Homo sapiens: one gene and its partners. The protein of the gene in region 2 purifies or fractionates together with the protein of the main gene of each other region. This does not show direct contact. Each region holds a gene or a part of one and is shown on either strand. Other genes may lie near its edges.

Region 1 (3,500 bases), on a different chromosome or scaffold from region 2:
ACTTTGGGAGGCCAAGGCAGGCAGATCCCTTGAGCCCAGGAATTCAAGACCAGCCTGGGCAACATGGTGAAACCCCATCTCTATTAGCAGTACCAAAATTAGCCGGGTGCAGTGGTGCACGCCTGTAATCCCGGCTACTTGGGAGGCTGAGGCACAAGAATCGCTTGAACCAGAAGGTGGAGGTTGCAATGAGTCGAGATCACGCCACTGCACTCCAGCCTGGGCGACAGAGTGAGACTCTGTCTCAAAAAAATATGTTTTGTAGAGACAAGGTCTCACTGTGTTGCCTAGGCTGCTCTTGCAATCCTGGGCTTAAGTGATCCTCCCACCTTGGCCTCCGAAGTGCTGGGATTACCAGCATGAGCCACCATGCCCAGCTGGATTCCCTAACATTAACATTTGATATTCCTGCAGTACATTTGTCACAACCAAAGAACCAACATTGGTACGTTACTATTAACTAAACCACACTTTATTCATATTTCACTAGCTTTTCCCTAATGTCCTTTTTCTGTTCCAAAATCCAAACTAGGATACCAATTACATTTTGTTGTCTTGTCTCCTTTGGCTCCTCTAGTCTATAGCAGTTTCTCAACTTTGTTTTTAATGACCTTGACAGTTTTGAGGAGCACTGGTCAGATATTTTGGTAGAATGTCCCTCAATTTTGATTCATTTGATGTTTTTCTCATTGTTGGATCGGGGTTGTGAAATTTCAAGAGGAAGGTCACAAGGGTCATTCTCATTACATCATATCAAAGGTACATGTTATTAACATGATGTCATTAATGACATTAATCTTGATCACCTGGCTGAGACACAGTCGTCAGGTCTCTCCATTGTAAAGTTACTCTTCCCCCTCTATACTCTCCTCATAAGAAGCAGAGTACTAAGTGCAGCCACATTCAAGAGGATGTTGGGAGTTAAACACCTTACATAGATACTCTCCACATCATATTCAACAGCATGTGGAGAATGTCTATGAAAGGTAGGGTATTTTTTATTCAGTAAATTGTAACCTGTACTCTGCTTTAAAAACATGCCTTGCCACTGTATTCTCTATGGTTTCTTTGTTTACTGAGTTTGTGGATGGTAAGTTCCTATACTAGAGAGATTTCCCAGGGCAGTGAGGATTTTAGGGCTGTATTTTTGACCTCCTCAATGTGTGTCTAATATGACACATCTGATGCAGTCCCCTGTCCAGAACCCATAGCTAAAATGAAGGGCAGGAAACACCAGCTAGCAAGAACTGGAGACCACAACTCTGGATATTAGGATTCCTGGGTAGGTAAGGATTTATTCTTTTAAACACCTCAACTTAAAAATATCTTGACCATTTTATAATGTAGTCCTTCTGAAATATATAATTTAACAGTTTTCTTAATGAGTGTGCTGGAATGATGTTTTCCTAATTTATAAGTTAGAACAGCTTTTTACTCTTCCACTGGAGGTCTAGACTGTAGCATTATTTGAGTTTTGATCTGTTTTTATTGTATTTTGAATCTTTTCTCTGTCAGCCATCATTTCTTGCTGCTATCAGTTTGCCTGCCTCCAGCAGTTTCCTTTCTGATTTGCTGTTTATAGCCTTCTGTTAATTTAGAATCCAGACAATGAAACTTGTTAGGAATGTATACAGAGGTAGTCAATACAGTATAAAATAGGATCTGAGAGCTGGAATTCTAAGCAAGTGTAAGCTCTAAGCATGTTAGTGAATGGCCTCCACCACATTTACGCAACTGCCCAGGAATTTTATTTTTCAAATTTTTTTTTGTTTTTGCTGGTTCTCACCTGTTGTGAAACGGTGAGACTGGCTTACTTGCATTATGGTTATTTCAGTAGGCCTGCTGCAGGCAAACTGCTTTATGTAGTGTGCCCTAAACACATTGTGGATGCCTACGAGTCCATGATTCAAATTTATAAAAATGTAGATATTGAGCCTTTTGAGTCAATATTTGATGTTTACAGAGAATTTAGTGATTGGTTTTTAAAATAGTATCCTAAATGCACAAAAATTAGCCTTCCCAGCAATGCATTTATATTTGTATATAAGATCCTAGTCACTGCTTTTGAAAATGACCAAAGCAGAGGCATAATACTTGCATTTAAAATTAAGCAAAGAAACAGCCAAAGCTAGAACATATAATATGCTTGAGAATTTATTTTAATCATGCTTTATTGGAAAAGTAGGAAAACCCTATACATAGAGTAAGAATTACAGATGGCTCTCACATTCTAACATGAATTTGGTATTGGATTGTGCATAGCTAGTTAATACACATCTATAGAGTCAGTACCAGAGGGAGATTAAAGTGCCAGGGTACTTCAGACCAGGACATAGATAAAACAAAGTGCAAACCAATTAGAACAGTTATATCATTAAGGATTAAAGATTTCTTAATGGTTAATTTAATTCATGTAGTAATTGTTTCCAGAGAGTCAACCCCTGCAGAGATACTAAGGAGAGTCTAAGGCTGTGTTGGTGGTGAAGCCACACCATGTAATCCAGACACAGACTCCTTTAGAATATTATTAATAATAGTTATCTGTAGGTGGTTTTAGGGGAAACAAAGTAGGATAATTAGAGGGATGATTTAAGGGAGCGGCTAGTAAGGGTATTGATAATGGTTCATTCAGGACCAGAACACATCCTTTACAGTACTTCCTGCAATTTGCAAAAGAAAGAAAAGCACCTCAGACTTTTAAGAATCCAGTGAGAGTAAATTCTCATATTTAATGGTGATTTTTGCTTTTTGGTGGATCCATATTGGGCCCAAATTGTTATAGACCAACTACAGCAGCTAATATGAGGTTTGGTAATCTAATATCCACTTTTCATCTTAATTCATTGACTTTCCTTATCGTGATAACTATAGTTTAAGAATGGAGATGTCAAATATAGGTCTCTTCCTTGTGAAGTAAACGACAGTTCATTTAACAGCAGTGGTGTGCTTGGTATCATTTCGTTGCATTTTGTTTGAACTCTAAAAATTATTCTTGAGAATAGCATTTTCATATTTCTGTCTTGATGATAGCAGTAATTCTGGATTTGCTTCTGTCTGTTTTTTGTTTTTAGTTTTTATGTTCCTGCTACAGATATTTTAAGTTTTACTTTTTATACTTACAAGCAGCAACATCAGATTTTTTTTCTATTGTAACACTTTTTCTGATTATAAAGAAATTTCTTTAAATAACATTCAGGAAATGTGTTTAAATAACACTTGGAAAATATAGGAATGGTATAAAAAAAGAAATTACCAACACCCCAATTATATAACCACTTGTTAATATTGTAATGTACTACTACTTTTATTCATATTTTTACATTATTGAAATACTATTGAACTGCACTTTTTAAAAATTAACATTATGAGTATTTTTCCATGGATGGTATGAATTCTTTGAAGACATATACATATGTTTTTTAATTGGCTAAAAAATGTTTTGTCATGTGAATGTGTTAAAATGTGTTATATCATATCTGTATTGTTGGCTGGTTCATTTC
Region 2 (5,320 bases):
AACTCGACAGTGTTTGCTATACTAGGTTTTTTTTTCAAATCTGATTAGGTTTGTATTTGGGGTCAGGAAAGAAAACCCCTCATAGTTTGGTTAAAAACTATAGACATCCTCAATATAGAAGGAAAATTTTGGGGTGATTTTCTGGACCTTCCCAGTTCTCAGTTTGACAAACTGGTAAGACTCTTCATCCACATTTTTCCCTCTGGTGTGTCTGGCTGCAGCACTAGAGACCCCCATCATCCAGGGTCAGGATGGGTCCCCTGAGCTACTGATTCGATCCCTGGTTGGGGGCCCATCTGCAGAACTACTCCTGGACTTGGAGCGTGTGCTGTGCCGTGAGGGCAGCCCCGGAGGTGCCGTGAGGCCCCTCCTCAAGCGCCTCCAGCAGGAGACCCAGCCTTTCCTCCTGTTGCTGCGGACTCTGGATGCTCCGGGGCCCAACAAGACTCTGCTGCTGTCTGTGCTGAGGTGAGGGGCCTGTTGAGGCACCATGCATTGGGACGAGGGAAACTGGCAGACTTCAGGGACTTCACTTGTTTCTTTTCTGTTTTCTTTTTTTTTTTTTTGAGTTGGAGTTTCACTCTTGTTGCCCAGGCTGGAGTGCAATGGCACGATCTCAGCTCACTGCAACCTCTACCTCCCAGGTTCAAGTGGTTCTCCTGCCTCAGCCTCCCGAGTAGCTGGGATTGCAGGCATGTGCCACCATGCCCAGCTAATTTTGTATTTTTAGTAGAGATGGGGTTTCTCCATTTTGGTCAGGCTGGTCTCGAACTCCCGACCTCAGGTGATCCGCCCACTTCGGCCTCCCAAAGTGCTGGGATTACAGGCATGAGCCACTGTGCCTGGCCTGACTTCACTCGTTTCTACCCCCTCACCAGGGTCATAACCCGACTGCTGGATTTCCCTGAGGCAATGGTCCTCCCCTGGCACGAGGTCTTGGAGCCCTGCCTCAACTGCCTGAGTGGCCCTAGCAGTGACTCCGAGGTACCAGAACCCTGGCAAGGAGAAGAGAGGGAAGGGCAGCATCTGGGGCACCAACTCCTTGTGAGGCTCTGGAGGGCACAGCAGAGCCTTTCTGAATGGATCTTGGGGCACTGGGATGGGTGTAGGAGGAGGAAGGGTAATGTAATCTAAGAATCTCCAGAACTGGAATCTTTGAAGTATAAACCTTTTAGATGATTTTAGATTTGGAGTTTAGATTCTGGACTAAGGAGAAGCCCACATTCACCAATCCAGACAGCTGTCCTCCCTTCCGGGTTTGTGCATTGGAGAGCAAGGCTCAGGCACCAGGGTTAACATAGCTTGGCCTGGGCAGGAAGCAGCCTGGAAAGCTGTGCCCAAGCTCTGTTCTGCCAACTCACTCTGGAGTCCCAGCACTCCTCTATTTTACTCCACCCTGAATTTGGTACTCTTGTTTCCCTGGGCGTTGGCATGTCTCCACAATCTCAGCCACGACACTTCCTTTACTGAACCCTCTCCTCAATCCTTACATGTCCTACCTCTTGTTTCCTGTAAATTAATCTATGTGGCTCTGGGCTCAGATTGTTCAGGAGCTGACCTGCTTCCTACATCGCCTGGCCTCGATGCATAAGGACTATGCTGTGGTGCTCTGCTGCCTGGGAGCAAAAGAGATCCTCTCCAAAGTCCTGGACAAGCACTCAGCTCAGCTGCTGCTGGGCTGTGAGCTTCGGGACCTGGTGACAGAGTGTGAGAAGTACGCACAGCTCTATAGCAACCTCACCTCCAGCATCCTGGCCGGCTGCATTCAGGTGAGGAGCGGCTGTGGGTATGCAGCTGAGAGAATGCAAGTCAGAAGCAGGAGAAGGGGATTCACTGTGTTCCTCTTTGGTATCCCTGTTTGGCACAGGTTGTAGCAAATCTGGGGCACTTGTTTCCTAACCTTGACTCCACATGGTTCTGTCAAAATGTGGGGAGAGAGGAGTTGAGTATACCGTTGACCCTTGACTTTTTCTCTCTACCTGTTTCTGGGCATTTCTCTGTGTTCCTCCCTCTCCTCTTCCTCATTCTCCCTGATGTTCCGGCTGCAGATGGTGCTGGGCCAGATCGAAGACCACAGACGAACCCACCAACCCATCAATATCCCCTTCTTTGATGTGTTCCTCAGGCATCTCTGCCAGGGTTAGTGCCCTCATCTGCTTTCTCCTGGCTCCCATCCAGTGTCTGTTCTCCCCTTCCCTTCCTGCTCCTTAGACCTTTTCCTTTTTCCTCTCAACTAACCTAGCTGTGACTGCCACCCCTTCCCACTTGCCCCCAGGCTCCAGTGTGGAAGTGAAGGAGGACAAGTGCTGGGAGAAGGTGGAGGTGTCCTCCAACCCGCACCGAGCCAGCAAGCTGACGGACCACAACCCCAAGACCTACTGGGAGTCCAACGGCAGCACCGGCTCCCACTACATCACCCTGCACATGCACCGTGGTGTTCTTGTTAGGTGTGAACACACATATATGAATGTTCTGCTGTGCCCCAGGATACTTCCCCAAAGCACCCAGATACACACAACCCCAGCTATAACCCCAATGCCTGAGGGACACACTCAAACCTATTTTGTGCAGTGAACACATAGACACATTGACCTGCCTTTGCTGAGTATAGACATCCCCTCACTCCCAGAGTCTGGTGATCTGTACTCCAACAGGTACAGATGGCACTGCCCTGTGCTTAGTGTTGAGGGAGATAAACAGCTCACTTATCCATTTCTCCTTTGGGCATTTGCTTAATGCCAGGCATTTGTGTCAGGCACTGTGCAAGGGTCTCGAAATAGAAGGACAATAAGATATGGTACCTACATTCCAGCTGGGGAGCTACACTAGAAAATCAAGTAAGAGCACAGAGTAAGAAAAAGCATTGTGGTCCACATGTGGACCTGAGACTGACAGGCATGAGAGCAGACTTCCTTCTGGAAGGAGGGGGTGACTGAGCTGGGTTTTGACATTGAAATTAGGTAGATAAAGAGGGGGCAATATTCTAGGCATAAGGACAGCATATGTGCAAAATGGAAGTAAGAAAGTATATTTGGAGGGACTTTAAGTCATCATATTTGGTTACAATTGAAAGCTGTGTATATCTTTATTTTTATTTTTTTATATTTTTTGAGATGGAGTCTCGCTCTGCCGCCCAGGCTGGAGTACAGTGGTGTGATCTCAGCTCACTGCAACTTCTGCCTCCCGGGTTCACCCCATTCTCCTGTCTCAGCCTCCCGAGTAGCTGGGACTACAGGCGCCTGCCACCACGCCTGGCTAATTTTTTGTATTTTTAGTAGAGACGGGGTTTCACCGTGTTAGTCAGGATGGTCTCGATCTCCTGACCTCGTGATCCGCCCGCCTTGGCCTCCCAAAGTGCTGGGATTACAGGCGTGAACCACTGCGCCCGGCCGAAAGCTGTGTATGTCTAAGTGGCGGAAGATACAGGCCAGAAAAGTAGGCAAAGGCAGATCACAAAATGTTTTGTGAGCTAAGCAGTTTGAACTTTATTCCAAAAGTTGGGAGAGCCATTGGAAGATTTTAAGAAGGGAGGAGAGAAAACTAGATTTTTTATTGAGAAAGCTCACTCTGGCAACTATGGGAGTTTGCGCTGGAGGTAGAAGAAGGAGGTGGAAGGTGTATGCAGTGCTCTAGTAGAGAAAGGATCCATGTGTTCAGTTAGACAGCAGGAGTGGGAACTGACTGGGAAATCCTCAGAGATGGAGTCCACAAGACTTGCCTTTGGGTGAGGGAAGCCATGAGAAGGTGAAGGCCTCAGTGACAGTATTCTAGTTGAGTACTGAGTGCACGGAAGTTTTATTTCCCAGGAGAGAAACAGGAAGCGGGACAGGTTTATGTGGACAGATGATCATTTCATTTGGGCATGATGACTCTGAGGTGCCTGTGGGACATGACATGGAAATACCTGTTGGGGACACAGCATGAAAGCTCAGGAGAGTGGTCTGGGATAGAGATGTGTATTTGGAGTCCTCTGTGTATTAATTTTCAGTTGAAACTGTGGGTTTAAATTAAGTCACTTTGGGTGAATATAGAGGGAAGAGCAGAGGGTCTAGTGGGGACAGCTGCCTCAGGAGCCAGCAGAGGAACAGGAGCCTGAGAAAGAAGTGGTGGCTTGAAATAGTTTTGAACTGAAACCAGGGCTCTGGCCTTTTTATTTCCTTCTTTTGATTTTTATTTCGTAGAGGTGGGGTCTTGCAGTGTTGCCCAGGTTGATCTTAAACTAGCCTCAAGCGATCCTCCCACCTCAGCCTCCCAAAGTGTTGGGATTACAGATGTGAGCCACCACGTCCAGAGGCCCAGCTTTGACTGTTTCCTTTCTTCTTTCCCAGGCAGCTCACTTTGCTGGTGGCCAGTGAGGACTCAAGCTACATGCCAGCCAGGGTGGTGGTGTTTGGGGGTGACAGCACCAGCTGCATCGGCACTGAGCTCAACACGGTGGGGACCCTTGTGCCCACCTTCACCTTGCTCCACATCCTTCTTTTTGTCCCAGTGCCTGTGGGAAGGACCTAGTCCCTGGGGAATGGTGACATCCCTTCCCCTTGGGAAGGTGTTGCCTTGTAAGCAGTGAGAGTGGGATTAGGGATGCAGAGCCACGTCCATCCCTAGGCTCTGCGGGAGAAGTGAAGGGCACACACCATGACCGACTTGGTTACTGTCAACAATTTTTCCAACCTTGTTTCTGGAGGTGACAGTTCTCTCCCTCTTCTCCCCTGCCCTACCAGGTGAATGTGATGCCCTCTGCCAGCCGGGTGATCCTCTTGGAGAACCTGAACCGCTTCTGGCCCATCATCCAGATCCGCATAAAGCGCTGCCAGCAGGTGGTGTTAGGGTGTCAGCCAGGGCTGAGGAGGAGGAGGTGGCACACAAGTTTCTCCTTGATCTGCTTGGGAGATGGCCCAGGACCTGTTGAGTCCCAGAGATGTGGGGATGTCCTGAGCAGTTCTAGGGAGCTCAGGGCAGGAGGCTTGGCTTTGGTAGTACTTAGTGGCTCAAGCGGCTTGGGTGACAGATAAGTCTGTGCATGTTCCAGGGCGGCATTGACACCCGGGTTCGGGGTGTGGAGGTCCTGGGCCCTAAGCCCACATTCTGGCCACTGTTCCGGGAGCAGCTGTGTCGCCGAACATGTCTCTTCTACACAATTCGGGCACAAGCCTGGAGCCGGGACATAGCAGAGGACCACCGGCGCCTCCTCCAGCTCTGTCCCAGGTGGGTGGGGCCTGAGGAGGGAAGATGGGTAAGGGAACAGGACACTGTGAGAAGTAGGAGGGATGCTCCTGTGGGAGTCCGGAAGGGAAAGCTGCAGCCAGGACATGAGGGGGAA
Region 3 (3,500 bases), on a different chromosome or scaffold from region 2:
CTTATAAGAAAAGAGATTTAACTGATTCACAGTTCCACATGGCTGGGGAGGCCTCAGGAAACTTACAATCATGGAGGAAGGTGAAAGGGAAGCAAGGCATGTTTTATATGGCAGCAGGAGAGACAGCAAGCAGGGGGGATCTGTCAAACACTTTTAAGCCATCAGATCTCATGAGAACTCACTTACTATCATGAGAACAGCATGAGGGAAACTGCCCCCATGATCCAATCACCTCCTACCAGGTTCCTCCCTTGACATGTGGGGATTATAATTCAAGATGAGATTTGGGTGAGGACACAGAGCCAAATCATATTATTCTGTCCCTGGCCCCTTCCAAATCTCATGTTCTCACTTTCAAAACACAATCATGCCTTCTCAACAGTCCCTGAAAGTCTTAACTCATTCCAGCATTAACCCAAAAGTCCAAGTCCAAAGTCTCATCTGAAACAAGGGAAGTCCCTTCCGCCTATGAGCCTGTAAAATGAAAAGCAAGTCAGTTACTTCCTAGAAACAATGAGGATACAGGCATTGGGTAAATACTGTTATTTCAAATGGGAGAAATTGGCCAAAACAAAGGAGCTACAGGTCCCATACAAGTCCGAAACCTAGCAGGGTAGCCATTCAGTCTTAAAGCTCCAAAATAATCTCCTTTGCCTCCATGTCTTACATCCAGGGCACACTGATCCAAAAGGTAGGCTCCCAAGGTCTTGGGCAGCTCCACCCCTGTGGCTCTACAGGGTACAGCCTCTGCAGCTGCTTTCACTGGTTGGTATTGAGTGCCTGTGGCTTTTCCAGGCACATGGTACACCATTCTGGAATCTAGAAGATGGTGACCCCCCTTCTCACAGCTCCACTAGGCAGTGTCCCAGTGGGGACTCTGTGTGGGGGATCTAACCTGACATTTCCCTTCCACACTGCCCTAGCAGAGGTTCTCCATGAGGGCTCTGCCCCTGCAGCAGACTTCTGCTTGGACCTCCAGGCATTTCATACATCCTCTGAAATCTAGGCGGAGGCTCCCAAACCTCAACTCTTGCCTTCTGTGTACCTGCAGGCCCAACACCACATGGAAGCCACCAAGGATTAGGGCTTACACTCTCTGAAGCAACAGCCCAAGCTGTACCTTGACCCCTTTTAGCCACAGCTGGAGCTGGAGTGGCTGGGACACAGGGCACCAAGTCCCGAGGCTATACAGAGCAGCAGGGCTCTGGGCCTGGCCCATGAAACCATTTTTCCCTCCTAGGCCTCTGGACCTGTGTTGGGAGGGGATGCCATGAAGATATCTGGAATGCCCTGGAGACATTTTCCCCATTGTCTTGGCTATTAATATTCAGCTCCTTGTAACTTATGCAAATTTCTGCAGCTGGCTTGAATTTCTTCCCAGAAAATGGGTTTTTCTTTTCTACTACATGGTCAGGATGTACATTTTTCAAACTTCTATGCTATGCTTCCCTTTTAAACATGAGCTCCAGTTTCAGATCATCTCTTCATGAATGCATATGACTGTACACTTTCAAAAAAAGCCAGGTTACCTCTTGCACACTTTGCTGCTTAGAAATTTCTTATGCCAGGTAACCTAAATCATCTCTCTCAAGTTCATAGTTCCACAGATCTCTAGGGCAGGGCAAAATGCTGCCAGTCTCTTTGCTAAAGCACGGCAGGAGTGACCTTTGTTCCAGTTCCCAGTGAGTTCCTCATCTCCATCTGAAACCACCTCAGCCTGGACTTCACTGTCCATATCATTGTCAGCATTTTGTTCAAATCCATTCAACAAGTCTCTAGGAAGTTTCAAATTCTCCCTCATCTTTCTTTCTTCTGAGCCCTCTAAACTGTTGCAGTCTCTGCCTGTTACCCAGTTCCAAAGTTGTTTCCTTATTTTCAGGCATCTTTATAGCAGTGGCCCAAACTCCTGGTACCAATTTTCTGTATTAGTCCTTTTTCACACTGCTATAAAGAACTACCTGAGACTGGGTAATTTATAAAGAAAAGAAATTTAATTGAGTCACAGTTCCACATGGCTATGGAGGCCTCAGGAACCACGGCAGAAGGCGAAGGGGAAGCAAGGCACATCTTACATGGCAGCAGGAGATACAGCAAGTGAGGGGGGAACTGCTAAACACTTTGAAGAGAACTCACTCACTATCATGACAACAGCATTGCGGAGACTGACCCCATGATCCAATTGCGTCCCACCAGCTCCCTCCCTCGACATGTGGGGATTACAATTCAAGATGAGATTTGGGTGGGGACACAGAGCCAAACCATATCAAAGATTAAATAATTCATTCTCATTATTTTTGTTTTTCGTAGCTTAGTTTTATTTTTGAAAACTAATTGTATTTAATATAGCAATTTATCTTAATGTTTAATGTTTGTAAATGCATTGTTTTACTAGATGTTTTATATATTTGTACATCTGAAATGCTTTATATATTTCATTCCACAGTTTATGATTCTTAACTCTTAAAAAATAAAATAGCTCCATTACATACATCATTTTCAAAATATCAGTATTATTATTTGGCTTCTGTGTTTCAGTCACTAGTGGCACAGTACGAACATTTAACTCTTGAAATAGACAAGCTGTGCTTTAGGGAATTACTAAAAGAACAGAAATCAGAAAGATTTGTCTTGGAATGTTGTGGTTGTTTAAAAATTACACTTCAAGCTAGGTGCATTGGTGCACACCTATAGTCCCAGCTCCTTGGAAGGCTAAAGCAGAGGCTCACTTGACCCCAGGAGTTCGAGGCCAGCCTAGGCAATATAATGAGACGCCCATCTTTAAAAATATATATATTTTTTAAAAAGTTACACTTCTACCTCAACCTCCTTGCTCCCACTTCTCTACCAGCCACCTCACAAATATTTGAGGGTCTAAGAGGTTAGTTAAAAGTCTTTGTTGTAGCTCTGTAGGATTTCTTATTTTTGAGATTTCTAGACATATAAAAACTCAAATTTCCTGTGATAGATGGAGTTTCTGTGGAGAGCCATAGGCAGTTTTGGTAGATGGTGTATGTGGAGGAGAGCAATCCCAACGATATGCCTGGGTTATATCATAGTGGTTACAGGGGTTCAAGGACCATTGTCTTTGACTCCTTTTGTAGATATTAGTAGCTGGTATTCTGGATGGTAGCCTTTTATAAAACATGTTAGGATTCGAGGCATACTAATAGTGTACATGCTTTTATTAATAGAATAAATGAGTGGAGGTTGGTTGTTTACTCATTCCTGTAGTAAAAGAAGTTCAGTGGTATCAAAACCGTGCTTTTTTGCAGGTTGGGTTGACAACTGGGTTTTTTTTTTTCACTAATGTTATCCATACACTAGTGGATTTTGTTGTTGTTGTTGTTGTTGACTGAAGACCAAAAGTTTTCCACTTAATTTTGTTCATACTCAAATTAGAAAATGCATTGTTTGTAATAGCAAAAATAACTTTTATGCCCAGTAATGTGAAATTGGTTAAATCAGTAATAGTATGTCCATGCAGATATGTGGTAGTTAAC
Region 4 (3,500 bases), on a different chromosome or scaffold from region 2:
TCTGGGCAGAGCCAGCACCTACGGGTCCTGAATGACTATCTGGAGGAAACACACCTCAAGTTCAGGTCTTGGGTCCCTTTCCTCTCTGTCCCCTTTCTTCCCTCTTCTCACCTTTGACATCCCACTTGTCCCCTCCAGAATCCATGAGGACAAGAGGCATAAATAGAAGGGATGAGCATAATGAGCGGGGTGGAGGATAGGTTGTTGGAAGGACTCCCCAGTGGAGAGAAAAGGAGACTATTAAGAGAGATTGTCTTGAGGGGTCACTGGGACAGAGGTAGGGCAGGACAGAGGGCAGAAGCTGAGACTGGAGAGTCCAAATTGGCCTGAGCAATCACTGGAGAAGGCTGGGGAAATGATGGGGACAGAAGATGTGTGGGGTGCTGGCCCTCCCCGCTCTCTCACATGCCCGCCCTCTGGACAGGAAGTTCATCCATAGAGCCTGCCAGGTGCCAGAGCCAGAGGAGCGTTTTGCAGTGGACGAGTACTCAGACATGGTGGCTGTGGCCAAACCCATGGTGTACATCACCGTGGGGGAGCTGGTCAACACGCACAGGGTGAGGGGCTGAGATCTGGAGGGTGTTGGCTGGGTGGGCAAGGGTTTGGTAGCCTGTGATGGGGTAGTGGGCTGGCCCCAGAGGGAAGACCTGGCTCAGACCCTGCATCTCCTTTTCTTTCTCCGTCCTGCAGCTGTTGCTGGAGCACCAGGACTGCATTGCCCCTGATCACCAAGACCCCCTGCATGAGCTCCTGGAGGATCTTGGGGAGCTGCCCACCATCCCTGACCTTATTGGTACGTGCCCTCCTTAGCAGCTGAGGCCAGCTAGGGGACCTGCATGGAGGGAGGGACAGGCAGGCAGGCAGGGCATGTGAGCGTGCCCATGCAGCCTAGGTCTTGTGCCAGGCGGCTAGTTCCATACTCTCCCTCTGGTCCTGACATGGGCACAGGGACACAGATTGATGTGGAGAAGGTAGACAGACAGTAGAGGGACCCACGATCATCATGGAAAACGGTCAATGAAATGATCTGAAAGAGGCACAGGGATCAGGGCCTCATTAGGTTTCTCTGAGAAGGAGGGGTTTCCGGGCCATGGAATAGGAGGAAGCCAACTTACTGGGAGGAAGGACAGAATGAAGATGGTGATTGGAGAGAACCAGGAGCTGCAGGCTCAGGGAGGCACAGCTCCTCTACCCTCAGGGCACCCAGGGCTGAGGGTGTGGGGGTGGCACAGCCCCAGTAACACAAGGGTATGCTCTGTGGGTAACAGCCCTTCCATCGGTGCTAAGGGTTGGGGACACAGGGTAGTTCTGCAGGCCAGTGTGGGAAAACTTCCTGGAAGAGGGGCATGTGGAGCAGCTGATTTAATGTGACCCCATCGGTGCATGTGTGTGTGTGTATGTGTGTGTGCGCATGTGTGTGTGTATGCCTGTCTCCCTCTCATTCCTCACCACACCTCAGGTGAGAGCATCGCTGCAGATGGGCACACGGACCTGAGCAAGCTAGAAGTGTCCCTGACGCTGACCAACAAGTTTGAAGGACTAGAGGCAGATGCTGATGACTCCAACACCCGTAGCCTGCTTCTGAGGTGGGTGATGCCAGCCTCTGCCCCTGCATACCTGAGCTCCCCAGCCCTGAGGCCAGTAAAATGGCCTTATTCTGAGGCGCCCATTCCACCTTCTTCCTGGGCTCCCTTATCCTTCAGGAAGTTCTCCCTGAAGCCTACCTTTATTCCCCTCGCTGCAGCCTTGGCTCTTTTCCATCTGGTATCCTCAGCTTTTTGCTCTGTGTTGTACTGAAAGTAAAGGAATGGTGAAGATATTGGCAACAGCAGGTGTTTGCATATCGTGCTGTTTACCAAATGCTTTTTTCTTTTTTTTCAAGTAGAGACAGAGTCTCGCCATGTTGCCCAAGCTGGCCTCAAACTCCTGGCCTCAAAGCCATCCACCTGGCTCAGCCTCCCAAAGTGCTAGGATTACAGGATTGACCCACTGCGCCTGGCCCAAATGCTTTTTTAATAAGTTATCGTTTATTCTTAGAAACAAGCTATGAGGTAGATGGTGGCTTCCCCTCTTCATAGTTGAGGAAAGACTCAGTAGTTATGTGATTTATCCAAAGTTCCACAGCCAGTGGGTTGTAGAGCTCATGTTCTAATTCCACTTTTTTTTTTTTTTTTTTTTTGAGATGGAGTCTCATTCTGTCATCCAGGCTGGAGTGCAGTGACACGAACTCAGTTCACTGCAACCTCCGCCTTCTGGGTTCAAGCGATTCTCCTGCCTCAGCCTCCTGAGTAGCTGGGACTACAGGTGCTCGCCATCATGTCCGGCCAATTTTTGTATTTTTAGTAGAGATGGGGTTTCACCATGTTGGCCAGCCTGATTTTGAACTCCTGACCTCAAGTGATCTGCCTGCCTTGGCCTCCCAAAGTGCTGGGATTACAGGCGTGAGCCACTGCGCCCAGCCTAATTCCGCATTCTTGTTGAGTGTGATGGTCAGGAGATGGGCATGGAGCTCTTCTTCCCCAGTTCTACAAAAGTGAGGGAGGACTCCCAGTAGGGGTGAGCTGGTCATCTGGGCAGAAGAGGAGCCAAAGTGCCAGCTCAAGCTCCTGCCAACAAGGCAACCCCTTGCACCCACTCATTCACTCAATAAACAAGTGAGCTGGCCAGGTGCGGTGGCTCATGTCTGTAATCTCAGCACTTTGGGAGGCCGAGGCAGGTGGATCACCTGAGGTCAGGAGTTCGAGACCAGCCTGGCCAACATGGTGAAACCCCATCTCTACTGAAAATACACAAATTAGCTGGGTGTGGTGGCAGGCACCTGTAATCCCAGCTACTTGAGAGGCTGAGGCAGGAGAATCACTTGAACCTGGGAGGCAGAGGTTGCAGTGAGCCGAGATCATGCCATTGCACTCCAGCCTGGGTGACAGGAGTGAAACTCTATCTCAAAAAAAAAAAAAAAAAACAAGTGAGCTGAGTATCATCTTTGTCCTGCCATCAAAGGGCTGAGAGCAGGATCGGGCTAGGGCTGAACACAGAGCACCACCAAGAGGGTGGTGGGTGTCAGATGCATTGAGAGCTAAGGAGAAGGGATGGCTGGGTGGGAAGGACATGTGTGCTCAGCTGAAGGACTCAAAGGCAGATAGTTTGTTGGGAAGGTATTCCAGGCAACGACATCCCCTATCCCTCGCTCTCTCTCCTTATATCCTAGCAGCCATGCTATAGAGCACGGTCCACTTACTCTCAGACCTCTGGCCAGTCCCATGTCCAGGCCCTTCCCCTGCCCCTTACCTCTCCTCTGTCACTGTCCTCCTTGTGCAGCACCAAGCAGCTGTTGGCCGATATCATACAGTTCCATCCTGGGGACACCCTCAAGGAGATCCTGTCCCTCTCGGCTTCCAGAGAGCAAGTGAGTAGCCGGGCTGGCCCACAGGTTCTGTCTCATTCATCCCCCACCTCATCCCACCTGCACCGCTGCTGTTTCCCTCCTCTGAACCTCACCC

Evidence for each region. Proteins that work in one complex are often made in the same cells at the same time.
Region 1: the proteins of CUL9 (region 2) and ISOC1 purify together in Homo sapiens (affinity purification with mass spectrometry, with the first as the bait; one large-scale study listed by BioGRID). This does not show direct contact.
Region 3: the proteins of CUL9 (region 2) and EIF5A2 purify together in Homo sapiens (affinity purification with mass spectrometry, with the first as the bait; one large-scale study listed by BioGRID). This does not show direct contact.
Region 4: the proteins of CUL9 (region 2) and IQGAP3 purify together in Homo sapiens (co-immunoprecipitation; one large-scale study listed by IntAct). This does not show direct contact.

Annotation. Positions count from the first base shown.
Region 1 is NC_000005.10:129,101,249-129,104,748, forward strand, and holds part of ISOC1 (isochorismatase domain-containing protein 1), read left to right. Parts: intron 1-3,500.
Region 2 is NC_000006.12:43,198,388-43,203,707, forward strand, and holds part of CUL9 (cullin-9), read left to right. Parts: intron 1-221; coding exon 222-468; intron 469-878; coding exon 879-984; intron 985-1,541; coding exon 1,542-1,769; intron 1,770-2,048; coding exon 2,049-2,139; intron 2,140-2,275; coding exon 2,276-2,447; intron 2,448-4,328; coding exon 4,329-4,434; intron 4,435-4,721; coding exon 4,722-4,817; intron 4,818-5,029; coding exon 5,030-5,205; intron 5,206-5,320. UniProt on the Homo sapiens protein: Core component of a Cul9-RING ubiquitin-protein ligase complex composed of CUL9 and RBX1. The CUL9-RBX1 complex mediates ubiquitination and subsequent degradation of BIRC5 and is required to maintain microtubule dynamics and genome integrity.
Region 3 is NC_000003.12:170,895,138-170,898,637, reverse strand, and holds part of EIF5A2 (eukaryotic translation initiation factor 5A-2), read left to right. Parts: intron 1-3,500. UniProt on the Homo sapiens protein: Translation factor that promotes translation elongation and termination, particularly upon ribosome stalling at specific amino acid sequence contexts.
Region 4 is NC_000001.11:156,531,066-156,534,565, reverse strand, and holds part of IQGAP3 (ras GTPase-activating-like protein IQGAP3), read left to right. Parts: coding exon 1-65; intron 66-424; coding exon 425-557; intron 558-690; coding exon 691-793; intron 794-1,459; coding exon 1,460-1,586; intron 1,587-3,318; coding exon 3,319-3,406; intron 3,407-3,500.